7 linked regions of the Homo sapiens genome follow. The protein of the gene in region 2 purifies or fractionates together with the protein of the main gene of each other region. This does not show direct contact. Each region holds a gene or a part of one and is shown on either strand. Other genes may lie near its edges. The genes, in order: TLCD3A, MAPK4, DNAJC10, SFXN4, PFKP, FAR1 and HKDC1.

Region 1 (3,500 bases), on a different chromosome or scaffold from region 2:
CACCCAACAAAGAAAAGCAATGGGAAAGCTGAGGGGAAATTCCTCACTCTTGAGTGCCTGGCCAGGGGAAGGCATGCGTTTTTTTTTTTAATTATTCATTTATTTAGTTATTCATTTTTTTGAGATGGCGTTTTGCTCTTGTTGCCCAGGCTGGAGTGCAATGGCTCACTGCAACCTCTGCCTCCCGGGTTCAAGTGATTCTCCTGCCTCAGCCTTCCAAGCAGCTGGGTTTACAGATGCACGCCACCATGCCTGGCTAATTTTTATATTTTTATTAGAGACGGGGTTTCACCATATTGGTCAGGCTGATTTCAAACTCCTGACCTCAGGTGATCCACCTGCCTCAGCCTCCCAAAGTGCTGGGATTACAGGCGTGAGCCACTGCTCTTGGCCGGCATGTAGTTTTATTTTATTTTTTAAATAAAGAGATGGGGGTCTCCTTATGAGGCCCAGGCTGATCTTGAACTCCTGGGCTCAAGGGATCCTCCCGTCTCAGCCTCCCAAAGTGCTGGGATTATAGGCGTGAGCCACCGCGCCCTGCCAGGCATGTGATTTAAAAGTTCATAGCTTGCTAAATATTAGAAGCTATTAGTCTTATGCTGTAGATGAAGAAACTGGGGCTCTAAGAGTATTCTTATATCTCTCAGTGGTACTAAGTGGCAGAGCTGATATTTTACCATGCTTACTGCTTTCTTGAAAAAAGAGGCCGGGCGAGGTGGCTCATGCCTGTAATCCCAGTCAGAAGTTCGAGACCAGCCTGGCCAACATGGTGAAACCCCATCTCTACTAAAAATACAAAAATTAGCCGGGTGTGATGCTGTACATCTGTAGTTCCAGGTACTCAGGAGCCTGAGGCAGGAGAGTCATTTGAACCCGGGAGGCAGAGGTTGCAGTGAGCTGAGATCACGCCATTGCTCTCCAGCCTGGGCAACAAGAACAAAACTCCGTCTCAAAAAATAAAAATAAAATAAATAAATAAGGGTAACGTGCATTAAATTCTTTAAGAAGTGTCTGGGACCTACCATCTAGGAACCAGAACATCTAGGGTGCTTTGAGACCCTAACATCTAGCACAGGGCCTGGCACATTTTGTTGAACCAAACAGGCTGAGTGTCTTGGCATGACTAAGTTCGATACACAAAAGTAGGCTTGCAGCCTTCCTTCCGGCTGTCATCAAAATTCAGAGCTTGGTGTGGGACGCCGTCATCCTGTCTGAATTTGCCTCTGGATCCTAGGGCTTGGACCATCAAAGTGCTGTTGCCACGGAAGCAGCGGTACAGTAGTCTGCGCTTGCCTATTGAGCGTCCTTTGCCCGTCACAGTTACCCTTTTCAGTAGCCCTCGTTGGAATTTTCCTTCTGGTGGTTTCTTAACCTCCACTTACTTCCCCTTTTCGTTTCGTCATCCGCAGAGGCTCCGGGGAGACCTTGGGGACTTCTTTGTCGGCTGCATCTTCACGGCAGAACTGAGCACTCCGTTTGTGTCGCTGGGCAGGGTTCTGATTCAGGCATGTATGAATGAAATGACAGAGAGTGTGAGGGTTCTGATTCAGGCATGTATGAATGAAATGACAGAGAGAGTGAGGGTTCTGATTCAGGCATGTATGAATGAATGGCAGAGAGAGTGAAGGTTCTGATTCAGGCATGTATGAATGAATGGCAGAGAGAGTGAGGGTTCTGATTCAGGCATGCATGAATGAAATGGCAGAAAGAGTGTGGGAGGGAGTGGATTCTGCTTTTCCTTCGGAGATGGTGGGTGTGGAGAAATCCCTAGTGCCAGGAGAGTGGGATGAGAGATCCTTCAACAGCCTTAAAGGTCAGCTGGTCATCTCAGCCAGTGGGGGTGAAATTGTAGGTTTGATCTAAGTTTGATAGTTTGATACAGCTCATTCTATTTTTTCCCTGGTTACACACATACTTTAATCCACGGTTCCTGTACTCCTGTCAGCTGGGTGGCCTGGGTCAAATTCAAAATCACTATTGGAGAAAATGAGGTTATTTGCACATCTCAATATGATAGTGTTCAAGAATGTCTTCTCCAAGTGTTAGAAAACTAGACAAACGTCTGGGCGCCAGGGAATCTGACAGCCAAGGTCTTGATGAGCACCTGCACCTGTGTGGCATTTACTGTGGTGGGACTTGGGCCCGTCGCTCCCTGATGCCCAGCTTCTTGGTGACCTTACCTTTTTCCTTCCTCTTCTATTGCAGCTAAAGCAGCAGCACACCCTTCTGTACAAGGTGAATGGAATCCTCACGCTGGCCACCTTCCTTTCCTGCCGGATCCTTCTCTTCCCCTTCATGTACTGGTCCTATGGCCGCCAGCAGGGACTAAGCCTGCTCCAAGTACCCTTCAGCATCCCATTCTACTGCAACGTGGCCAATGCCTTCCTCGTAGCTCCTCAGATCTACTGGTTCTGTCTGCTGTGCAGGAAGGCAGTCCGGCTCTTTGACACTCCCCAAGCCAAAAAGGATGGCTAAATGCTCCTGGGAGTCAGGCGCAGCCTCACACCAGCTGCCTCCTCCACTCAGCATTCCATGGACCAAATTGTGCCCTGGGTAGCCTCAGACTTTGGGTATTGATAAGCCGATGGATTTGAGTTTTTCTAAAGAATATTCATATTACCTCCTTCTTCTAACTTGCCCTATTTGCAAAAGCACTTTTGTAGTAACAACTATTGGGTCCTGTCAGACCTCCACGGACAGCAAAGTGGTTTTAATGCAAGCCCAAGGATCCTTCTTAAGGTCTTATCTCAAGAGCTCTGGGAGGTGGAAGCATGGGGTGGGATCGGTGGACCAGGGTGGTAAGTGTCTGCACATCTGCCTGTCCCTGTATCAGCGGCTACCCACCTTCCAAACCACTCAGGACAGTACCCGTGGCACTGGGCCCGCAGAAGCAAGGGATGACTTGGTTCTTGGAAGTAATGTCGTCTTGTGACATTGGCCTGGGACAATCATTGTGGGTAGGTAGTTATTGATCGTTTACTAGATAACCCATTGGTTCTTTGCCTCATCCTCTCATCCATGGGTCAGAGTTGAATTCTTATGTCTATAGACTTCCAATCAGAAGTCTCACTGGTGGGGCTGGGGGTGGGGGCAGGCAGGAGGCATGGATGGGAACCTGAGTAGGTAGTGTGGCCAAGAGATCAGCACAACCTTTGCAGGCTGACTTGCTAAGTCTGACAGTGACAAACTTGTGAGCTTACTGCAGTCAGTCACAGAGGCTGTTCTTTTTCACACACCCCTTCATGCCCGGCTTTCCCCATATCCACATGCAGAGGGCGAGCTCATAAAACTACAGGGAAGCGTGAAATGATGGCTTTGGTAGCTGTTTACTGGGTAACCCCACTGTGACACTGTCCTTTTCATGTGATGTGGAAACCTACTTCTGTCCTCCAAACCATGAAATGTGTCATCTAGACTGCAGAGTACTTGAGTGCTTTGCCTCCCGATATGCCAGAGCTTGTGGTCCAAAGCCCATTCCTGTGTGTCCGTCCTGCCATTTA
Region 2 (3,500 bases):
CCTCTCTCTGTTTACAACCCAGCAGAAGCTGGAAAGGAAGAAGGCTTAAGCATGTCTCTTCCTAAAAAAAATAATGATATGCAATTGCCTCTTTTTGCTATGCCCTTGGGAGTCAGACCAGGCTTGTGGGGAGAAAGAGAAGCTTCAGTGTAGTTGCCATTACATGACTTGGGCAGCAGGAGTCAAGGAGGGAGAGAATGGAGAGCTGTGGAGGCTCTTTGATTCCCCTGAGTTAGGTATCCAGGCCAACTTCGCTAGCACAGGCCATAGAATCTGGTTCACTGGGTGCTCCCAGCACTGTCTCTTAGTGGCTGGGCATCCTCAAACAGAGTGAATGGTATTCATTTATCCATTCATCAGATGGATATTGACCCTATGTATGCTGAAAGCACTAAGCTGGTGCTCTCCAAGCCTTGGTATCCTCACCTGTAAAGTTAGAACTGGAATCAGAATCGATGTTTCTCAGTGGAAGTGCTGTTGGCATTCAGGGGTGGAGGGGTGGATGTCAGTGGATGTGCTCTGGGCATTTGGGCATGGAGGTGGGAATGCTCGGTAGAATGGTTAGCAAATCCGGCCCTACCCATTAAATACCAGTAATGACTCCCAGTCAAATAAGGTGAGGAGGGCAGTACCATCTCCAGATAAGGACCACGGGCCTTGTTTTCTTAGATTTCTTCCCAATCTGAAATTCTGTAAGTCTATGGTTGTTTTGTTCCTGGACCCAGTAAAAACATGCAGAACAGAATTACCGAAGATCTGACAAATTATCAGAATCTTGAGTACATCTTATTCAAATGTAAGGGAATGTTTAACTAAACAGCAACAATAGGTAACATCTGTTAAGCAATTACTATGTTCTAGACCCTTGGCAAATTTCCTTCATTAGAAGTCTTTACAGGCGATCTGATTGTTTACTATTTCAGATCATCTGTGTCCCCTAATTTGCCCCCTTAATTTCAGAGCATTGAGTTGACTATCGTTTTTGCTTCATTTATCTTTGCAGAGTTGTGCGAAGTTCAGATAGCAAAGTGTCTCTATAGGAGGCCCTGCGATATGAGAATAAAGCAGCAGTCTGCCAAGTTCATGCCTTTGTGTTGGATACAGTCTTCTTTCTTTGTGTGTCTGTGGTCTTTATGAACTTAGAAAACCTGCCAGTCTCTTAGACGCTATGATATTACCTTACTTCAGAGATCTGAATTTACATGTCTAGTTTTGCAGGGTTTTTCCTCCCCACTTAGTTCCTATACCTGTAATTTGAGTCAACAGCCACCAGAGGGCAGGGACAGTGAAGTTTAGATTTGACCCATTGCTTTGAAGAGCGAGGTCACATTGTCAAAAAGAATACAGCTCACCATGCCAGTTTTGATATAGCACTGGGAACTCTGCACCCTGGTTTCTGGGCAAAGAGAGTCCTTTTATTATAGGTGGCAACATTATTTCCTTGTAATTTGGTACATGGGCTTCTTCAACTTACGTGGAAAGCAAGAGATACAAATGTCATTACATCTTAGTCCCTGTGAAAGCCTCTTAAAATGTTCAAAGACATTTGTAAAAGAAGGAAGAAAAGGAACCCAAGTGCAAAAACACGAGTATCGATCCTTTGTTTTCTGTCTGCAACTCATTGCTTTCTACTCTCACCCTTCCTAGCTAGCGCTGATGTGTGTGTTTGGAGAGCATAAAACAAATTAATTTTCCGAAGGTCAGAAGGGATAATTCTCCACCGTAATTTGCACATGTTAAACTTGGGGGAGCAGGCACTGACATAAGAGGCACAGCATCTGATGGTCTTATCAAATCAATCCATCTTCTGTCTCTTCCAGGGGAGTGCTACGCACAGCAGGAGGGTGGCTGGGCAGTGCAAAGCCCCGGAATCCCCTGAGCAAGCAGTGTTTCAGCTGGCTGGACAGATCAAATAACACTTGGGCTGGTTAACAAAAGACGCAAGTGGGAAGGTGTTGGAAGCCGGAGTGTGGAAATTTACCCAACGTTATTTCTTTGACAGGGAAGGAGACTTGGTCTGAAAGATGCCACATTCCTGCAGCCTCTCTTGGTGCAGTGGAATACAGTCTTGGGCGAGGTGGCGTGGATGAGCTGGTGAAAGAGGATGCTGCCCACATCCAAAGGCTCCAGAGGATCCTGGCCTGGCAGCTGAGCTCCCCTGCATTTGGAACCTCAGGCGTAACTTGGTGTAGAGCTCATGAAAGGTGCTTGTGTTTCTCCAGCTTTTTTCACCAGTGCTTACCAGACTGGCTCAGGTTTTGGAATCTAAGGTGAGCTGGTAGAAACAGGAGAGGTAGAAAGAAGCCCCTGGATGCCTCCAGAATTCATTGATGGGATCCCTGCATACTGCTTGGAACACAGAAAGAGGCTGTGACACAGCTGAGCTTTGGAGCATCTTAAGGAGCTCAGCTCAGCAAACAACTCTTGCATTTCAGCCAGAAAGAGCCTCTTGTAACAAAGTATTCAAAGGGGAGAGTTTCTGCATCTTTTACTTTGCAGTCCACTATGGTAGAAAACTTGACATTCCATAGATAATGATACTGGGTTTTCTTTCCAAGATGCCAGCTTTAAAAGAAATATGAGCCATTCTAAGCTTTAAGAAGGGTTCAGGAAACACAGGAATTAGTAGACAGCCCTCCCAATGCAGGTTAAGACGACAGCCTGCGCCCCCAACTAGCACAGCTCAGCGAGCATGACCATATGCCATTCTCGTCTCCAGAGAGCTGGTGGCAGTGACCTCACTAGGAGAAAACACATCCCTCAGCCGTGGGACTTGACAGAATGAGGTGCGCGAGGGAGGCCGCTAGCCGAGACTTGGCCTTTCCTGACTGCCCCTGTGTTACCTGGGCAGCTCCAGATCACTGAGCCCACAATGGCTGAGAAGGGTGACTGCATCGCCAGTGTCTATGGGTATGACCTCGGTGGGCGCTTTGTTGACTTCCAACCCCTGGGCTTCGGTGTCAATGGTTTGGTGCTGTCGGCCGTGGACAGCCGGGCCTGCCGGAAGGTCGCTGTGAAGAAGATTGCCCTGAGCGATGCCCGCAGCATGAAGCACGCGCTCCGAGAGATCAAGATCATTCGGCGCCTGGACCACGACAACATCGTCAAAGTGTACGAGGTGCTCGGTCCCAAGGGCACTGACCTGCAGGGTGAGCTGTTCAAGTTCAGCGTGGCGTACATCGTCCAGGAGTACATGGAGACCGACCTGGCACGCCTGCTGGAGCAGGGCACGCTGGCAGAAGAGCATGCCAAGCTGTTCATGTACCAGCTGCTCCGCGGGCTCAAGTACATCCACTCCGCCAACGTGCTGCACAGGGACCTGAAGCCCGCCAACATCTTCATCAGCACAGAGGACCTCGTGCTCAAGATTGGGGATTTCGGGTTGGCAAGGATCGTTGATCAGCATTACTCCCACAAGGTATGTCTGGCTGGAATGGCGGATACTGGTGGTCCACAGAATCCCCAAGAATACTTGCAGCATTCCCAAGCTATTCCTAGCT
Region 3 (4,196 bases), on a different chromosome or scaffold from region 2:
GTGGATCTTAGGAAAAGATAATCAACTAAACAATATTTAAAGAAATATTGTTTCTCTTGCTCAGCTTTATGCAATGAAAATAATCCTATTTTAAAACTTCTACCTAGAAAAGAGAAAATTATAACTATGTCTTCTTGTTAATGATGAACGCTAAATCTCACTAAGAAATAATCAAATAAATTACAAAAACACCATAAAAATTAAAATGAGTTTAGTTTTGAAAGATTTACATTAATGTGTACATAAATATTTATGACTGGCATTATATTCAGCTGCTGTGAAGTATTAATTTATAAAACTTTCTAACTCTGGTTTGTGGACTTGTGCATACACAGAAGAAAACAGTCAAAGTTAAAACATGCTATTATTAGCTATTACTTCTATTTTTAGCAAGTCATACCCTCTGAGTTTTAAAAAAATATTTTTGTTCCTGTTCTAAAACACTTGATCTTAACCTACTTTAATAAGAAAACTACTTCAACTACTTCACGGATATTATCGTTTGTTTTGGGGTTAATGTCTTTAATAGAATTGTTGGAAAATCGTCTACAAATTAAGAGGGAACTGAATTTTTGGTACTGACATTCCTTCACGGGATCCTAAATAATCCAGAACATTTTGGTGCTTTTGTTTCTAGCATACAAGTTGAATTATAATTTTGACATATGATTATTCTTAAGCATTTGATCATTTAAAGCAATTTAAATAAATATCAAAATGTACCAAAAATATAATCAAATATTTTTAAAAACAAACGTTTACCTACCGGGTTTTTATCAGGATGTAACTTCAATGCCAATTTCTTGAAAGCTTGTCTTATTTCTCTACTGCTTGCAGTTTTGGACACTCCAAGTAAACTGTAAAAATCCTGATCTGTGCCCACTAAAATGGCCATATACACTATCAGAAAACAGAGAATGATCCTTTTCAAGTCTCTGATATAGTCATCTTTATTTAACCAGACTCCCATTCTCTTTCTTATGCAAGTTCTGATTTAAGTGAACATTAAGATTCACTGCTGGTTCCAGTTGATGTAATATGCAAATTTGAGAACTTCTGTCTACATTACTTCAAGGGTGAATCAAGCATCACAAATCTGTCCCCAAAAATATTAATCTAAGAAAGAAAAGCAGGCAGTTAAAATACATTTTGAACTAAACAATAATAGCACAATTTATTTATCACAGAACATGGTCAGCAATACAATCTCCATTAAATGGCAAATCAGTGTGAATGCCCCAGGTTCTATTTTTCACTCTTTCTACATCCATGTAGCTAGATTTGTGAAATCACTGAAGATAGCAGAAAAAAGGTCATGAGTGGTAGTAAGTAGCTTGCACACACACCCTCAGCAATTTATACACTGAGAAAAGACCTCTGACGAGCATCAGAACACAAAGGTGGCAATGAGCTACAGGTGCTTCCTCTTTCTACCCAGTTATAGCGTTGCCTGTAATACCTCTTCCTTTTAGCTACTTCTTTACCTCCTAAAGCTGTCTAATTTTCATTTTCAGCAGAATTCACTTGTAGGAAATGTCCTTGGGAGGGACTAGAAGGAAACATAGGGTTTTTTACTTCTCATATAACCCTACCAGAAATGACAGTGAAATATATTGTTATAATAGACAATCTACACAGCAGTCGATCTTCTTCCCGGAGTTTCCTCAGAAGGTGCTTATACTGAATTTAAGTAGAGGCCATTTTTTAAAAATAGTAGAAAAACAATTGTAAGTTACCAGTGTAATTTTATTGCAAAGTTCATGTTTGGTGTAAGTAGAAACAAAACACAAAAAGAGAAGGGAATCGGTTATTTAGACATACTCTCTGCAGGGCAAAAACAATCATTACTTCATCATATCACATTTCAACCACTATATTTTAGTTCCAAAGAGATCGTAATGCTTTGAAAAATCTAACGCTCCTCGCACCTCATTTCTGTTTTTCATTTAATCCTAAATGTATATTTAAAAATTTTTCTCTTTACCTGTGAATGGTCTTCAGCTCATTTCTAATACTTCCTTTTCATTCCACAAAAATATACCTTTGAAAAATATAATGATGTAGAGATTAACAAGTATCCAAACAAGAAAACAACCATCAGAAAAAGAGAGGGCATAGTCTCAATCAACACTTTGGGATAAGATGTTTCTCGCCCAGGGGTTGTTCTCAGCGTGGGTGTGGCCGAACTGCCCGTGGCCCGAGCTACCGGGCAGGTGGAAGCGCCAGGTAAATGCAAGGCGCAAGCTTTCGCATTGCCATCACTGCAGAGTGGGAGAGGGGAGAGGGGTAAAGATGAAGACACGGGGGAACAGGGCTGTTAAGTGTTGCTGGTGTCTGAAGTCTCAGGTCGGACTTAGGGAGAAAGTGTAAGTAACTGAGAGGGAATCGCTGGGCAGAGGAAGGGTGGTGTGAATAACAGGGAGGAGGAAGGTGGGGAGCGAGAACACAATATCCAGGTCTTAAGAGCGCACAGGAAGGGAGGTTCAGGCGCTCAGCCATTCCGCCCCTCCCTGACCGGAGGGCCCAGGCCACCACCGGCTCCAGCAAAGCCCTAGCCCCGGGCCCATGCCCACCTTGCCATCGCGGGGTCGCTTCCTGTAGCTACTCCCCCATCCTCAAACCCTGGCGGCGGACCCCGCCTGGCCGAGCCCAAGCACCGCGTGCAGGAGAGAAGCACACGCACTCTCCGACGGCCCAGCCGCGGCGCACGGGATTGGTGAGGTGCAGCCACACCGGCGACTACCAGCGCGCGGCCGGTACCGGTAGGTTCCTCACGCGCCGGTCTCCACGGCGAGCCGGGGCGGGGCCTGGCGCGGAGCATTGTGGGAAAGGCGTGGAGGACGCTGCCTGGGGAGACCCGCTGCGGGCCCAGCGGGCGCTGCGGCGGTGGGGTGGAGAGGGCGGTGTAGGTTTAGGTTGACGTGGCGGTGTGCGCGGGATCCGGCTCCGGCTCCGGCTCCAACCCGGAGCTGAGGGAACTGCCCTGGCCAAGCAGCCCGCGCCCCCTCACCAATGCGGCCGGCGCCTGCCGCGGGCGGGGAGGGTGGATGGCGAAGCCCGCCTCTTCCTGCTTCCGTTGCCAGGGTGACGGGGAAACCCAGAGGGTGGGTTTTGGGGTTGAGTTCCCTGAGAGTCTTTTAAAGGGAAGACGGAGCTTTGGAGGATTTGTCTGGGTGATGGGTGGGTGAGACCGAAAGGCGAAATTTGGCGGAGAAAGGAGAAGTTGCCTGAAGCGACACTGATTGCAGTATCAGGCTAGCGGACTGAAGAGGCAGTAGGAAACTTGAAGGAAATTAAAACATTTACAATTTTGTGTAAGCGTGTGTATCAACAAGCATTTGAGACTTCTACAATATTTTCTGGATTCTGAGTCATACAAGCTAGAAACTGGGGAGTTATCGTTGTTCTCTCTTACCTTGATCTCCTACTGCTATGGTACAGGAACTGCATTTTGTCCCACAGCAATATAACAATTGAAGTGGTTATATTTACTACATTTTCTATATTTAAAAGAGAAAACCGAGCCTAGAGGATACCTGCTTATAACATCAACCCTAACATGAAATAAGTTGTGATTGGTAACAGTTTCGGGGAGTAAATCAAGTGTCAGCTTCTAAAAACTTGGAAAACTACACAGGATCTATGGCTAAGCTAATACTTGGTAGGAAAGAAGAGGAAGTAGAATGAACAAAGGCAAACATTAGAAGCAGCCTGATGTAATAGTAGTTAATATGTCTCAGGAACTGGTCTAAGCACACATGTAGTAACTCATTTAGTCCTCCAAATAATCTTACAAGATAGTGGCTCCTATATCTATTTCCCATTTGAGGAAACTGAGGCAAATATTTGAGAGCTAGGATTCACATCTAAGCAACCTGGCTTCAGAGACTATGATGTTAAGCATTATGACACAGTGTGTAACCATTTTGTTACACACTGTAACAAAATCTTAAAGTAAATTGAAAAACAAACAGAAAACTGGAAGATGAAGCAGGGACCAGATCACAGACAGGTTTTTATACCAAGATGAAGACATAGATTTCTATCTCTTAGGTGATGAGGAAGCTTTTAAAAAAGAGACTGAGATTGTATTTTAGATCATCCTGGCAGCTATTGGAGAGAGGATGCAAAGCATACAAAACTGGAGAAAGAACAGGAGAATGTTAGACAAATAGGGTAAATGCTTTAAGAGGTGG
Region 4 (3,500 bases), on a different chromosome or scaffold from region 2:
TTGAGACCAGCCTGACCAACATGATGAAACCCCGTCTCTACTAAAAATACAAAAATTAGCCGGGCGTGGTGGGGCATGCCTGTAATGCCAGCTACTCTGGAGGCTGAGGCAGGAGAATTGCTTGAACCCGGGAGGCGGAGGTTGCAGTGAGCTGAGATCACACCATTGCACTCCAGCCTGGGCAACAAGAGTGAAACTCTGTCTGAAAAAAAAAACTTAAGCAAAGACGAGGGAGGAATATGTTTCCAAGATCCCAGGGTTTCTCCTAGAATCCGGTAAGGAAGCAGGGGTGCTGGAAGCTGGTCCCAGGCTGTGGTCAGGATCCAAGACTGAGTGGCCAGCAGTTCTTAGCCTACTTCCACAGCCCCAGGAGAGCACTTGGTTGGCCCAGCCTATGGCAGGTGTCCACCTGAGGGTCAAGAAAGGCCAGCTGTCAGAGAAAGAGGCTTGCAGGGGGCAGACACCCAAAGAGATGTTCCTTTGCTGGAACAAGACTCACCCCCGTCTTGGGTGTTCTTTACTTCTTTACATCTACAGTGCAAGCCAGTGGAATGAATGTCTACATGTCCCGAAGTCTTGAATCCATTAAGGGGATTGCGGTCATGGACAAGGAAGGCAATGTCCTGGGTCATTCCAGAATTGCTGGGACAAAGGTAAGAGACAGGATGAAGCTATAGCTGCTTGCCTTTTGGGCAACGACTAGACTTTTCTGTTTGAAAGCCGGTGACAAATTCATGTCTGCCTTCAACCTTTCTTTACCCGTCTTTCCTTAGCATGCTGAGAGAGAAATTTCTCATTTTGCCCCCTGATAAGATGGGGCATTAGTCTGGGTTCTCTGGAGAAACAGAACCAATGGGATATATGTACATAATCTTTCTTTCTGAGACAGGGTCTTGCTCTGTCGCACTGGCCTGGAGTGCAATGGTGCAGTCTTGGCTCACTGCAACCTCTGCCTCCCTAACACAAGCGGTCCTCCCACCTCAGCCTCTCAAGTAGCTGGGACCACAGGCACACACCACTGCACCTGGCTTATTTTTGTATTTTTAATAGAGACGGGGTTTCACCATGTTGGCCAGGCTGGTCTCGAACTCCTGGCCTCAAGTGATCCACCCACCTCGGTCTCCCAAAGTGCTAGGATTACAGGCATGAGCCACCATGCCTGGCCCCCAATTCCTTTTTGAAATCTCTCAAAAGAAAAGCATGCACCTCTGTCTCCATTGTCCCTCCCATTCACTCCTGAGTTCAAGTGATCCTCCCACCGTGGCCTCCCAAAGTGCTGGGATTACAGGTGTGCACCACCGCACCTGGGCAGTACATGTCTATTAGGAGATTTGTTCTAAGGAATTGGCTTACACAATTGTGGGAATCTGCAGGGCAGGCCTGGAGGCTGGAAACTTGGACAGGAGCTGCTGCTACAGCCTTGAGACAGAATTTCTTCTTTGGGAAACCTCAGTTTTTGCCTATAAGGCCTCTAACTGATTGGATGAGGCCCACCCACATTGTGGAGGGTAACCTTCTTTTCTTTTTTTTTTTTTTTGAGACGGAGTCTTGCCCTGTCACCCAGGCTGGAGTGCAATGGCGTGATCTCAGCTCACTGCAACCTCCGCTTCCTGGGTTCAAGCGATTCTCCTCCCTCAGCCTCCTGAGTAGCTGGGATTACAGGTGCGTACCACCACGCCCAGCCAATTTTTGTATTTTTAGTAGAGGTGGGGTTTCACCGTATTGGCCAGGCTGGTCTCAAACTCCTGACCTCAGGTGTTCCGCCCGCCTCGGCCTCCCAACGTACGGGGATTACAGGTGTGAGCCACCGCGCCTGGTGGTAACCTGCTTTTCTTAAAGTGAGCTGATTGCAGACGTGCCCTGTGTCTGCAGAGTACCCCTACAGCAACAGCTAGATGAGTGCTGGATTAAATAACTGGGTACTGTTGCCATGGTGACCCGTGAGGCTGACTGCCACAGACAGGCATCTGACAAGTGCTGGGTACCTCTGAGAGTGAGATCCTATTCTTCAAATCCAATATCTGCCCTCCCAGTGTGTGCTGATTGGGGGCCACTCCCCTCCCAGCCTGCTCTGCACTTACAGAGGTCAGTGGACACCCCTTTCTGGGGTTAAAAGAGCCCCTGCTTCTCCCATTCAGCAGATGTCCTTATAGTCTTCATTGCTAAGGACTACTTTTGTCAAGAATGGACTTAGAACATTGAATTCTCTGATCCAAAACTCCTTTTCAAGGCCTCAATTCTGAATAATTTTTACTATTAGTTTCTTCTTTTTCTTCTTCTTTCTTTTTCTTTTCTTTCTTTTTTTTTTTTTTGAGACAGGGTCTCCTTCTGTCGCTGGAGTGCAATGGTGTGATCACGGCTCTACAGCCTCAACCTCCCAGGCTCAGGTGATTCTCTCACCTCAGCCTTCCAAGTAGCTGGGATTCTAAATATGCACCACCATGCCTGGCTCATGCTTGTGCTTTTTATAGACATGGGGTTTCGCCATGTTGCCCAGTCGTGTCTCAAACTCCTGAGCTCAAGTGATCTGCCCACCTTGGCCTCCCAAAGTGCTGGGATTGCAGGGGTGAGCCACTGGGCCTGGCCAAAGTATTCTTTTGTTCAGTTCAACACAGTGACTACTGAGTGCATTCAGCCGTGAGAACCTGGTATAGTCTATGGTCTTTTCATTTTGGGTGTGGACTTTTAAAATAATATGTTTTTAGCAGGTGAGATCTTTTTTGGTCCCTGTGAAATGACTTTAGCTGAAGACTTTAGTTGTTTGCAAATGACATATCAAGCAGAGTGGAACAGCCCTGATATGAAGTGAAGGGACTAACCGGGCTTCTGGCAGTGTGGGATCCAGAGGACTCCCTTAGCCAGCCAGGGTATGTCCTTCTACTGACCAGCATGTTGGTGGCAGGGAAGCTCAGAAAAGATGGTTGTTCATTCCATCGGTAAATACGTCATTATTCAGCTCACCAAACATATTACTTTAAATCCTATCACTGACTGACAAAGCTGAATTATAAACTATCAGATACATGCTAATGGTATTTCCACTAGACCATCTAGTAGCATAGCTCCTTACCTAAATGAATTATGACAGAGATAAAATAATTATAAGTAACAGAGAAATTGCTGCCAGTAAGAAAATAGGTCACTAGTTTGAAATGAAGGTTCTGGGCCTAACAAACCACCCGTAAGTTGGATCACTTGCAGTCGGTCAGGAGTTCGAGACCAGCCTGGCCAACATGGTGAAACCCTGTGTCTACTAAAAAGGCAAAAATTAGCTGGGCATGGTGGCGGGTGCCTGTAATCCCAGCTACTCGGGAGGCTGAGGCAGGAGAATTGCCTGAACCTGAGAGGTGGAGGTTGCAGTGAGCCGAAGTCGTGCCATTGCACTCCAGCCTGGGCGACAGAACAAGACCCCATCTCAAAAATAACAAACAAACAAAAACCACCTGGGACTGCATTTGCGCTTTCCCCTGGGGAAAAAAAAAAACGCCCGAAAGAGACAT
Region 5 (3,500 bases), on a different chromosome or scaffold from region 2:
ACCAACACGGTGAAACCCATCTCTACTAACGATACAAAAAAGATCAGGTGAGCATGGTGGCGCATGCCTGTAATCCCAGCTACTTGGGAGGCTGGGACAGGAAAATCGCTTGAACTCAGGAGGCGGAGGTTGCAGTGAGCCGACATCAAGCCACTGCACTCCAGGCTGGGCAAGAGGGCAAGATCCCGTCTCAAAAACAAACAAACAAACAAACAAAAAAAACACACACACACACAGAAATAAAATCTTAATCGTAGTAAGACACAGCTGAAAAGATATGAAGGACTGACTCCCCGAGGCTACTGCATGCCACCCTTTCAATCATTTTCCATTCAGGAAACTTCGGATCAGATCATTTACATATGTACGTTTAGACAAGGGGTCCTATATTAATGAATCTTCTCTGTCAAAATCCTGGTCAAAGTCAGAAAACAATCCCATGGGACTCCTGGGAGCATCTCACATTGGGGAAACCTGGAGAAGTGGAGAAGCTGATCTGCCCGATTTGCAAACCGCTCCACTGGCCCCAGGGGGTCCAGCAGCACCGGTGCCCTCCCCGTGAGAGTCGGAGCCTCACTCAGACCCACACAGTCAGGATCTACACCTCCGCAGGCTCCCCTAGGCATCTCTGGGCACACGGAGGCTGGGAAAATAGCACACGGGCCCTGGGGTTGGGGGTCCCAGCACAGTCCAGCCTATTCTCTTTTCCTCCTGAACACTTTCACTGTGGATATGTGTTAGGGAAGAGGGGAGGGAAGACAGAGACAGGGAGAGGAGACAGAGACTGAGTGATGCCTCCATTCTGCAGAGGAAAACATCAAGACCCTATCTCAGCACTCAGCACTCAGCACCCTGCTGACCCAGACAGCAGGACCAGGGCTAGGACCTATAAATGTCTCTGCCTCTCAGTGCTCTGGTCTGCCATGTGTCTGGCTGCCTCTTACATCCTGACAAGCACAATGACTGTAATTCCAAACACAGGACTGGGAGTTGGGGGTGAAGACGGAGAGAACCGAGGAGTGGGGAGGGAAACTGTAGCCTTTGGGCAGCTACTCTCTAATAAACAAAAACACAACACCAGAAAGGGCTTGTGGAAAAGAAACACAAAACGGAACCCAATTACTGACATACGGCCCTCTGTTCTATATTCACCCGCACTTTCTTAGCCGAAATGCCATTGTGAACGTGCAATCTGGTATCCTGATGTTTGTCCTGACTACGTTACCGTATCTTCACCTTTCTAATTTTAATTGCTTCTGATGGCCCATCAGATTGGTAGAGCCCTAATTATTTAAAGAGCCTAATTCTCCCTGATAAAAGGTTGGAGTCCTGTATCAAAAGCTTTTAGCTTTCTGTAACCAAGGGGGAAAACATGCTTCTTTCGAAAGATGACAAAATGTCTAGCTTCGAAGGGTCATTCGAGTATGGCACACAAAACGGTCTGCATTCACAGAAAATGATGCCATTACACAAATCTCCCACTGTGCCACATGGTGACACCATCATTCCAACACACTGCCTCCCAGACCCAGTAATTTTTGCAAAATTAATTACTGCACTTTACACTGAAAAGATCCCATCAAATAATGTATGTACACAGGAAGGTAACGGGCCCAGAGCCGTGGGAGGCAAAATGGCGCTGTTCTCAGTTTCCCCTTCCACCCTACTGGGCTCCGAAGCCAGCATTGCTTCAGACACCAAAGGTGCCCATGTGGGGCTCAAGCCTGGTGTCCAATAAATATGTGTGTCATTGACCTAATGCACGTCCAGCCAATGGAAACCTCACACTTCTGACTTCGGTTTTAAGGTTCTAATCTTGAAGTCTTAACAGTTTACACATATTGACCTGAGGATATTGGATACTTTTAATTAGAGAGGGTTGAATTCCTCTAAAGGACTTCATGGACGAAGAAGACAGCTAGAACCCCTGGTTTCCTGCTCCTCAGTGGAGATTCCAGGCAGGAGGCAGGCAGCAAACACTTGCATTCCTGCGAAGCGCCAGGCATGGTGCTGGGCGCGGGAAAGACACCAGTGAAGACGCAGGTACGCGCAGCCCTGAACATCCCTGCTGCAGCCACAGGGCCCGGCCCCACCACGGAGCTCTGTGAACTCAGGGAAGGTGGTGCAACTCAGGCGCCCCTTGCTCATGTGTAAAATAGGGATAAGTCATTGCCCAGGATCACTGAGGCCCTGCCACATAACAAAGAGTCATTAATGCTAGTTATTCTCACTAGGATTGGAAAGGTTTGTACTTACTCAATTTATGTGGACTTTCTATAAATACTGTATTGATATTCACCTCACCACAGGCAAAAAGGACGCAGCTTTCACATGCAGCCTACCCTAAGGATGCACCTGGACTTCCCAGTACACTCAGCTCCACCAGGCACCAGGACCTTCAGAAGCCACAACCTGTGACTAAGACAATGAGTCACTCTTGGTGTGTGGCACAGTGTTCTGTGGCAGTGGGGACTTAGTCATGGTAAGTCCGCCATTCAGAGTTATGGAGCTTATTTCAGATTGAGTGAAAATCAATTTAAGTTTCCAGACATGTCTTGGGACAACAGAAGATACATAAAGAGGCAGAAGAAGAGAAAGAAAAAAAAAAAAAAAAAAAAAACAGCCTGAGACAGAAGATATCCAAGCAAGTAGAAAAAACAAACAAACAAACAAACAAAAACAGCCTGAGAAATACTTTCTTCATTCAAGGCCCGGGGAGTCGGGAATATAGAAAAGAGAAAGAGATTTTCAATTGTATCTTATAATTAAATAATATACACTCTACTGAGAGAAGAAAAAGCAGCCCATCACATAATATCGTTCTTGCCACCTGGACTCCTATCACTATAAAAAGGCATTTTCCGTTCCCCTAACAAAGCCACCCAAAGAATATCTGTGTAATTTTGGGCAAATCGGGTTTTGCTCACTTTTGAGCATTAACTAGATAAAGCAGCTTCACCAAGAAAGGTCCCTGAAAAACATGGTGGAGATGGTGGAGGCCTGACACAATGGCTCATGTCTGTAGTCCCAGCTCTTTGGGAGGCCAAGGCAGGAGGATCACTACAGGAGGCCAGGAGTTCAAGGCCAGTCTCGGCAGCATAGTGAGATCCTGTCTCTACAAAAATAATAATAATAATAATAATAATAATTAGCTGGTCATGATGGTGCATTCCTGTCTTCCCAGCTACTCAGAAGGTTGAGGCAGGAGGATCACTTGAGCCCAGGAGTTTGAGGCTGCAGTGAGCTATGATGGCACCACTACACTCTGGCCTGGGTGACACAGCCAGACATAAGTACTCTTCGTGGTCTACGGGAGAGTACAATATTTGGAATTAAGATCTGTTTTGCTCCTATCACAATCACGTATGCACCTCATGCCCTTACCTAACTTACTTTTCTTTCTGAGTCTTTCTCCCCACTTCCAAAATGAGGACACGCCTCTCTTGGGATCATGTATTTAGGCTTGGAGATAAGAAGTGTAAAGCTCTTAGAATACAAAA
Region 6 (4,168 bases), on a different chromosome or scaffold from region 2:
ACATCCCTGAGGGTAAGCAAGTGTGTTAGCTTTGTGTTCTGTGCCCTCCTCCAGAAATGACAGTACTTGCTGCAAGACTGTGAGCTCATCGAGGCAGAAGCCATGGCATTCAAATTAGTTTCCTGAGCCAGAACTTAACATCTGCCACAAAGTAGGCAGTTCAGTGAGCTTTTGTAGTTTCCAACTGGATGCAGCACTATGACTGCTTTTAGCTACTAACAGGGCCAGGCACTGAAACAAGCTCTAAATCCCCACAGAAAAATCACTCTGAGCCATCCATCCCTAAATACCAACCTGTGCATGCTATTCACCGTGCCAAGAGCGTTCACTCATTTTTGCTTCTCACAAATCTTTTTTTTTCTTCCTATGGCTTGCATGTTTTGAATGACAGCTAAATCCTAATGCGGACTGTTTATACAATGGAGTCCCACGGAGCCCAAAGATTGTGGTAATATTATTACAGAATTCTCATGATCCTTTTATTATTTTTTAAAAATGAGCCGTATGAATGTGGTAATACTATTAAGTGTCCGGCTCGATGAATTCCTCCATGTGTACACAGCCCGGAACGACCACCAGGATCAAGACGCAATGTTTCCAGCTTTCCATAGGTTCCCTCGTGCCCCACCCCTCAGAAGTAAACGTTATTCTAACTCCTATCACTACCGGTAAGTTTTGTAGGGAATTATTTTGGAGGAAGTGGAAGGTGGAATGAATGGGCCCACAGTCCCCTGGGACTGGGCGAGACCCGTGGAGGCTCCAGGGGTCCGTAGAGCTCTTCGCTCTCACCGACCCGGGCCACACCCGCCAAGCTGGTAGTTCTCCGAACGGATCCCTCACGCCCAGCAATGGCCGGAGGGCCCCCGGGCCCCACCATAATAGCGCTAAGCACGCCACAATGGCAGCCCCGCTGTCTCCCGCGCGGGCCTCGCTGCGTGCTCCCAACCTTGGGAGTTGGCGCCCCTCCCGCGCGACGGACAGCCGGGCGTGGCCCTGGGCGCGACCCGACAGGACGCCAGCAGCCGGCGGGGGCGCTCCAGGACTCGAGATGTGGGGCGCGGGCCCATTGGCTGAGCATTCCCCCGCGAGCCTCCCGGCCGCAGGGCCCACCTCCCGGCCCTCTCTCCGCGCCCCCATTGGCCGTTCGCGTTCCGCGGGCGTCCGCTCCCGCCCCACTCCCGCCCGGAGGGAAACCGGGTTGGGGGTGAGAGGCTAAAGCAGGGAGGAGGATGACTGGTCCTGCGGATAAGGGTGTGCGCGAGAGCCAATCAAAAGCGGATGTCGAAAAGAGGCGCCGCTCCAGCCAGTCACGTCGCGAGGTGCGGTCGGGGCCGGCTGACGCGACTGCGGGCCTCAGCCAATGGGCGTGCCACTGCCCGTCCGCTCTTCAGCAGCCGGTCGCGGGCGGTGGAAAAGCGAGTGAAGAGAGCGCGACGGCGGCGGCGGCGGCGGCGCAGCTATTGCTGGACGGCCAGTGGGAGAGCGAGGCCTGAGCCTCTGCGTCTAGGTGAGAAGGGGGTGCGCCAGCGGGAGCGGCCGGGCTGCGGGCTCCTCCTCGCCTGGCTCGGGAAGTGGTTGCGGGAGCTCGGGCTGCAGGCCTGGCCGAGGCGGGGGCGCCGACCAGCCGTCCCGCCCCCGCCCCCGCCCGGGTACGCCCAGAAGTGAGGGCGCCCGCCTCACCCCGGGTGGTCTCTGCCCCTCTTTGCCCCGCCGCCGCCCTTCACAGGGCCGGGACCGCGTGGGGGACGTACGGTGGGGCCTGGTTTGCAGCCGCGGAGCCCGGGGAGCCGCCTGGGGTGGGAGGCCGCTAGAGGTGGCGAAGGTGGGGCGGGGTGGTTAGCCGAGCAGCGGGCTCCGCGTGCTCGCGGGAGGGTAGCGGCAAAGGGAGGCCTAGTGATTGCAGGATTCCGGGTCTGGGGAGGAAGAAAGTGGTGGGAAATAGGTGATGCTCAGAAAAGGGTGCTGAGGGAGAAGGCGCGGGGCCGGGGAGTGTGGTTGGCCTATTAGAAGTAAGGATTGATAGGGCCTGGGTGGAGATCAGCTGGGAGTGAAGGGGGGACGGGCTTGGGTTTTGAAGGTGAAGGTCTCTGGAGAACTGGGGACACGTGGATCTGGAGTAAGAGGCACCTACTGAAACCGGAAGGTGGCTGAGAAGGTTTTATGTGAGGTGTGGACGGGAGGCTATTGGACTAGAAGGCATTAGTTGGTCTGTTAGGACAAAGTATACAAGCAGCAAACGCGGTAGATTTATGTGTGGTAGGTGAAGGCTGTGAATCTTTTATGAGTAGTTGAGCAAGAACAGTTGTCTGATTCTGCGGTGTCGGAGAGTGGAGGGTCTCAGGTAGTGTCTTGGTCAGGTTTGAAGGTTAATTTACTGCTAGTGGAGGGCCAAATACTCAAAAGAGTTTTTAATTCTCACTACTGGGGCTGATCCTCCTCCTACACTCCACCCCTCCTGCCATCCCTGTGACAGTTCATCTCGTTTTGCCTCAGCAGCACAAGAACTCACTCCCTCCGAAGTAATGGCATACATATTGTTTGCTTTTGACTAGATGGCAGTCAGGAATCCCTTAATTCTTTATGTTAAAAAAAAAAGTGTTGGTTTAAAGACAACATCAGAAGATACTCTCAGAAAATCTGCCCTCCAGGGGAGTTTCTCAGCTGTCATGTTGGGCATGTGTAATATAGCATAAAAATGATGCAAGATCTCTTACAGTAATACAAGTGAGAATTAACGTATAAGTACAATCCTGATGTATTTTTTTCAAATTAATTTAAAAAGTAAACAGAGACAGGGTTTGCTGTCGCCCAGGCTGGAGTGCAGTGGCGAGATCATAGCTCGTTCCAGCCTCAAACTCCTCGGCCCAAGAGATCTTTCCACCGTGGCCTCTCAAAGGCTTGGGATTACAGGGGTGAGCCACCCCACCCAGGCCCTGTTATTCCATACATTTTCCATAAAATTATTTTATAATTTTTGTTTTGTTTTGTTTTTATTTTATAAATTTGTGTGTGTGTGTCTCGCTTTGTTGCCCAGGCTGGAGTGCAGTGACGCGATCTTGGCTCGCTGCAACCTCCACCTCCCAGGTTCAAGTGATCAGCTCTTGCCTCAGCCTCTCGAGTAGTTGGGACTACAGAGACATGCCCCACCGCACCGGCTAATTTTTGTATTTTTAGTAGAGGCGGGGTTTCACCATATTGGCCAGGCTGGTCTCGAACCCCTGACTTCAAGAGATCCATCCGCCTCGGCCTCCCAAAGTGCTGGGATTACAGGCGTTAGCTGCCGCGCCGGCCAAAATTATTCCATAAATTTATCCATAAAAATTCCACATAAATTTTCTGGAGTTTGATTATGTATTAGGCTTGTTGGGAAATTTATTACCCTTGTGAAGAATTTTGTAGCTAAGTAGCTTGAGGGTTTTTTTTTTTTTTTCACTCAGGAAAGACATGGTATGTATGCATCACTGCTATTCTATTTGAAGCTTTTGGAATTTTTATTTATGGGGTGTGGATAGAGGCTGGAGGCAGAGACTGAGGTCAGAGAAGAGGTAGTAGAAAAGAAGGTGGCCCACTACCATATTTCCAGTGTATTTAAATGGGAGATAGAGTTTCTGTTTGAGGATAGGACAAAAGGTTTGTGAAGAGTTATAGAGTCAAGGACAGAAGCCAAAGAGAGCATTTGCTGTGTAACATGTTTGCTTGTTAACCAGATCAGCAAAGCATTTTAACTAATGGACCATTATTTATGATCTAGAAACAATTTTGTGAAAGCGATTTCTTAGTGATGCTGTTTACTGTGATCACATTTGCCCTTAGTATAACAATACCTAAGTGCTGAGGCGACTTGCAGTAGAGAAGTAATCTGAGTGGCGTGGAGTGAATCAGGGAAGGTTTCCTGAAAGAGGTGAGTTTTGAGCCATCATGTGAACTAGAAGTTGGGATGTGGGTTATTACAAGACATGAGGATGACATTCCAGTAGTTTGTACTTGGTATAAGCAACTGTGGACAAGAGTGACAAATTAAAAATGGTTTTTAAGGATGATTGAAGATTCGAATGAAGATTTAGGGGTTTGGAAATCAACCAAGGCTATGTTGCAGCTTAGCTGATAAATAATTTTTTATGTTGGTTAGGAGAGAAAATTAACAGTTGATAATGGATTGGAGATAGGT
Region 7 (2,721 bases), on a different chromosome or scaffold from region 2:
AGATCACAGATATGAACATGCTGAACACCAGAGGCATTCACACTTTATTTTTTAAAGTTGATGGAACTTCCAGGGGTGGTGGACCTTCTTGAGTCTCGGCTTCTAAGGCATTCTGCTCCAGCCTAGCCATTGCCTGGGTCAATTTCTCCTCCCTCCTGTAAGGGCATCTAAGAATGGGGAGGCTGTGGGTCACACTGGGCACATCCCGGGGTCCTGGGAAGCAGGTCCTGACTCCCTGCTCTATTGCCTGCAGCGATCGGCTGGCCCTTCTCCAGGTCAGGAGGATTCTGCAGCAGCTGGGCCTGGACAGCACGTGTGAGGACAGCATCGTGGTGAAGGAGGTGTGCGGAGCCGTGTCCCGGCGGGCGGCCCAGCTCTGCGGTGCTGGCCTGGCCGCTATAGTGGAAAAAAGGAGAGAAGACCAGGGGCTAGAGCACCTGAGGATCACTGTGGGTGTGGACGGCACCCTGTACAAGCTGCACCCTCAGTGAGTGCCCACAAGAGGCGTGGCGGGTGGGGCTGGGGAGGGCTGGCGGCCAAGTGTGGACTTGGCATAGCCTCCTGAACTGCGGCATGGGAAGATGCATCCCCGTCCTTTTATGGGAAAGGAGTGCTGTGTGGTCAAGTCACCTATTCAATCTGACAGACAAGGTGTGAGCCCTGGTGCCTCTGCTACCTGGTAATACGATGTGGGAATGTTAGCCGGCCTCTCTAAACCCCAGGTTCCTCATCCACAAAAGGCCAGCACTAATAATCCCTACCACATAGGGCTAAATGTGTGAGGTTGAAATGAGTTAGCACATGTAAAGTGCTTCACACGGGGCTCAAGAAATGTAAGTTGGCTGAGTGCAGTGGCTCATGCCTGTAATGGCAGACGGGAGGATCACTTGAGCCCAGGAGTTTGAGACCAGCCTGGGCAACACAGGGAGACTCCATTTCCACAAACATAAATAAATAAAATACAAAATGAACAAAAATTACAAATATTAGCTGGGCGTGATAGTGCATACCTGTGGTCCCAGCTACATGGGAGGCTGAGCTGGGGGGCTTGAGCCTGGGAACTCGAGGCTGCAGTGGGCTGTGATTGCACAACTGCAGTCTACACCCTGGGCAACAGAGTGAGACCATGTCTAAAAAAAAAAAAAAATTAGAAGAAGCTGTTTAGAGCCTTGAAAAGCAAACCAAAGGGAAGAAGCTAAAGAAATTAGATTATGATCATTTATAAATGTTCTGATTCTACATGGAAGGGCTGATGATGTTTCTTTCTCTTTTTCATAGCTTTTCTAGAATATTGCAGGAAACTGTGAAGGAACTAGCCCCTCGATGTGATGTGACATTCATGCTGTCAGAAGATGGCAGTGGAAAAGGGGCAGCACTGATCACTGCTGTGGCCAAGAGGTTACAGCAGGCACAGAAGGAGAACTAGGAACCCCTGGGATTGGACCTGATGCATCTTGGATACTGAACAGCTTTTCCTCTGGCAGATCAGTTGGTCAGAGACCAATGGGCACCCTCCTGGCTGACCTCACCTTCTGGATGGCCGAAAGAGAACCCCAGGTTCTCGGGTACTCTTAGTATCTTGTACTGGATTTGCAGTGACATTACATGACATCTCTATTTGGTATATTTGGGCCAAAATGGGCCAACTTATGAAATCAAAGTGTCTGTCCTGAGAGATCCCCTTTCAACACATTGTTCAGGTGAGGCTTGAGCTGTCAATTCTCTATGGCTTTCAGTCTTGTGGCTGCGGGACTTGGAAATATATAGAATCTGCCCATGTGGCTGGCAGGCTGTTTCCCCATTGGGATGCTTAAGCCATCTCTTATAGGGGATTGGACCCTGTACTTGTGGATGAACATTGGAGAGCAAGAGGAACTCACGTTATGAACTAGGGGGATCTCATCTAACTTGTCCTTAACTTGCCATGTTGACTTCAAACCTATTAAGAGAACAAAGACTTTGAAGTATCCAGCCCCAGGGTGCAGAGAGGTTGATTGCCAGGGAGCACTGCAGGAATCATTGCATGCTTAAAGCGAGTTATGTCAGCACCCTGTAGGATTTTGTTCCTTATTAAGTGTGTGCCATGTGGTGGGGTGCTGTCTGGGGCATCTGTTTTTCATTTTGCCTGTGGTTTGTGTTGCAGGTGTTGATAGTTGTTTTAAGGATTGTTAGGTATAGGAAATCCAGTAAATTAATAAAAAAATTTTGATTTTCCAATAAACTTTGCATGAAGTGGTGATATTTCTTCTGGGAGGCTCACTTGGTAATACCATGCTTTGTTGATGGAATAAGGGATGCAGAGTCAGAAGGAGCTTGAGCATTTTTCTCGAGTCCAAACTTCCTACCAACAGGGGTAATATATGGAATATCTTCTACAATATCCTTAACAGATTATCCAGATGTCTTTAGAATACTTCCAGTAACTGAGCATTTCCCACATGATCCTACAGCTCTTGCTTTTGAACGGCTGGAGTGGACTGGAAGTCCTTCTGACTTCTGAGCTCGGTTCCTCCCATACACCCCACTGATCTCCATTCTACCCTGCAGAACTATGTGTAATAGGCCTGTCCCTGACCATTTCTCCAGTGGACTTCCTCTCTCTCTCCTCTCTTCCCCACTTTACCTGAACTGCCTGTGCCTTTCTGTTCTGCCACATAGTTATCTGTATGAGTTTCACATCTGGCCAGATAGATTGTAAACTCTTTGTCAAACACATTCTTG

What was found.
Region 1: the proteins of MAPK4 (region 2) and TLCD3A purify together in Homo sapiens (affinity purification with mass spectrometry; one large-scale study listed by BioGRID and IntAct). This does not show direct contact.
Region 3: the proteins of MAPK4 (region 2) and DNAJC10 purify together in Homo sapiens (affinity purification with mass spectrometry; one large-scale study listed by BioGRID and IntAct). This does not show direct contact.
Region 4: the proteins of MAPK4 (region 2) and SFXN4 purify together in Homo sapiens (affinity purification with mass spectrometry; one large-scale study listed by BioGRID and IntAct). This does not show direct contact.
Region 5: the proteins of MAPK4 (region 2) and PFKP purify together in Homo sapiens (affinity purification with mass spectrometry; 2 studies listed by BioGRID and IntAct, with this or other methods). This does not show direct contact.
Region 6: the proteins of MAPK4 (region 2) and FAR1 purify together in Homo sapiens (affinity purification with mass spectrometry; one large-scale study listed by BioGRID and IntAct). This does not show direct contact.
Region 7: the proteins of MAPK4 (region 2) and HKDC1 purify together in Homo sapiens (affinity purification with mass spectrometry; one large-scale study listed by BioGRID and IntAct). This does not show direct contact.

Annotation. Positions count from the first base shown.
Region 1 is NC_000017.11:739,096-742,595, forward strand, and holds part of TLCD3A (TLC domain-containing protein 3A), read left to right. Parts: intron 1-1,409; coding exon 1,410-1,505; intron 1,506-2,205; coding exon 2,206-2,475; 3' UTR 2,476-3,500.
Region 2 is NC_000018.10:50,661,087-50,664,586, forward strand, and holds part of MAPK4 (mitogen-activated protein kinase 4), read left to right. Parts: intron 1-1,820; exon of another isoform or gene 1,821-2,002; 5' UTR 2,003-2,872; coding exon 2,873-3,418; intron 3,419-3,500. UniProt on the Homo sapiens protein: Atypical MAPK protein. Phosphorylates microtubule-associated protein 2 (MAP2) and MAPKAPK5.
Region 3 is NC_000002.12:182,714,861-182,719,056, reverse strand, and holds the start of DNAJC10 (dnaJ homolog subfamily C member 10 isoform 1 precursor), read right to left. Parts: upstream 2,801-4,196; 5' UTR 2,574-2,800; intron 2,367-2,573; coding exon of another isoform or gene 2,293-2,366; exon of another isoform or gene 2,260-2,292; intron 2,042-2,259; 5' UTR 1,985-2,041; intron 1,117-1,984; 5' UTR 971-1,116; coding exon 767-970; intron 1-766. UniProt on the Homo sapiens protein: Endoplasmic reticulum disulfide reductase involved both in the correct folding of proteins and degradation of misfolded proteins.
Region 4 is NC_000010.11:119,152,215-119,155,714, reverse strand, and holds part of SFXN4 (sideroflexin-4), read left to right. Parts: intron 1-537; coding exon 538-653; intron 654-3,500. UniProt on the Homo sapiens protein: Mitochondrial amino-acid transporter. Does not act as a serine transporter: not able to mediate transport of serine into mitochondria.
Region 5 is NC_000010.11:3,070,548-3,074,047, reverse strand, and holds part of PFKP (ATP-dependent 6-phosphofructokinase, platelet type), read right to left. Parts: intron 1-3,500. UniProt on the Homo sapiens protein: Catalyzes the phosphorylation of D-fructose 6-phosphate to fructose 1,6-bisphosphate by ATP, the first committing step of glycolysis.
Region 6 is NC_000011.10:13,667,300-13,671,467, forward strand, and holds the start of FAR1 (fatty acyl-CoA reductase 1), read left to right. Parts: upstream 1-1,368; 5' UTR 1,369-1,507; intron 1,508-4,168. UniProt on the Homo sapiens protein: Catalyzes the reduction of saturated and unsaturated C16 or C18 fatty acyl-CoA to fatty alcohols. It plays an essential role in the production of ether lipids/plasmalogens which synthesis requires fatty alcohols.
Region 7 is NC_000010.11:69,265,332-69,268,052, forward strand, and holds the end of HKDC1 (hexokinase HKDC1), read left to right. Parts: intron 1-253; coding exon 254-487; intron 488-1,278; coding exon 1,279-1,426; 3' UTR 1,427-2,221; downstream 2,222-2,721. UniProt on the Homo sapiens protein: Catalyzes the phosphorylation of hexose to hexose 6-phosphate, although at very low level compared to other hexokinases. Has low glucose phosphorylating activity compared to other hexokinases. Involved in glucose homeostasis and hepatic lipid accumulation.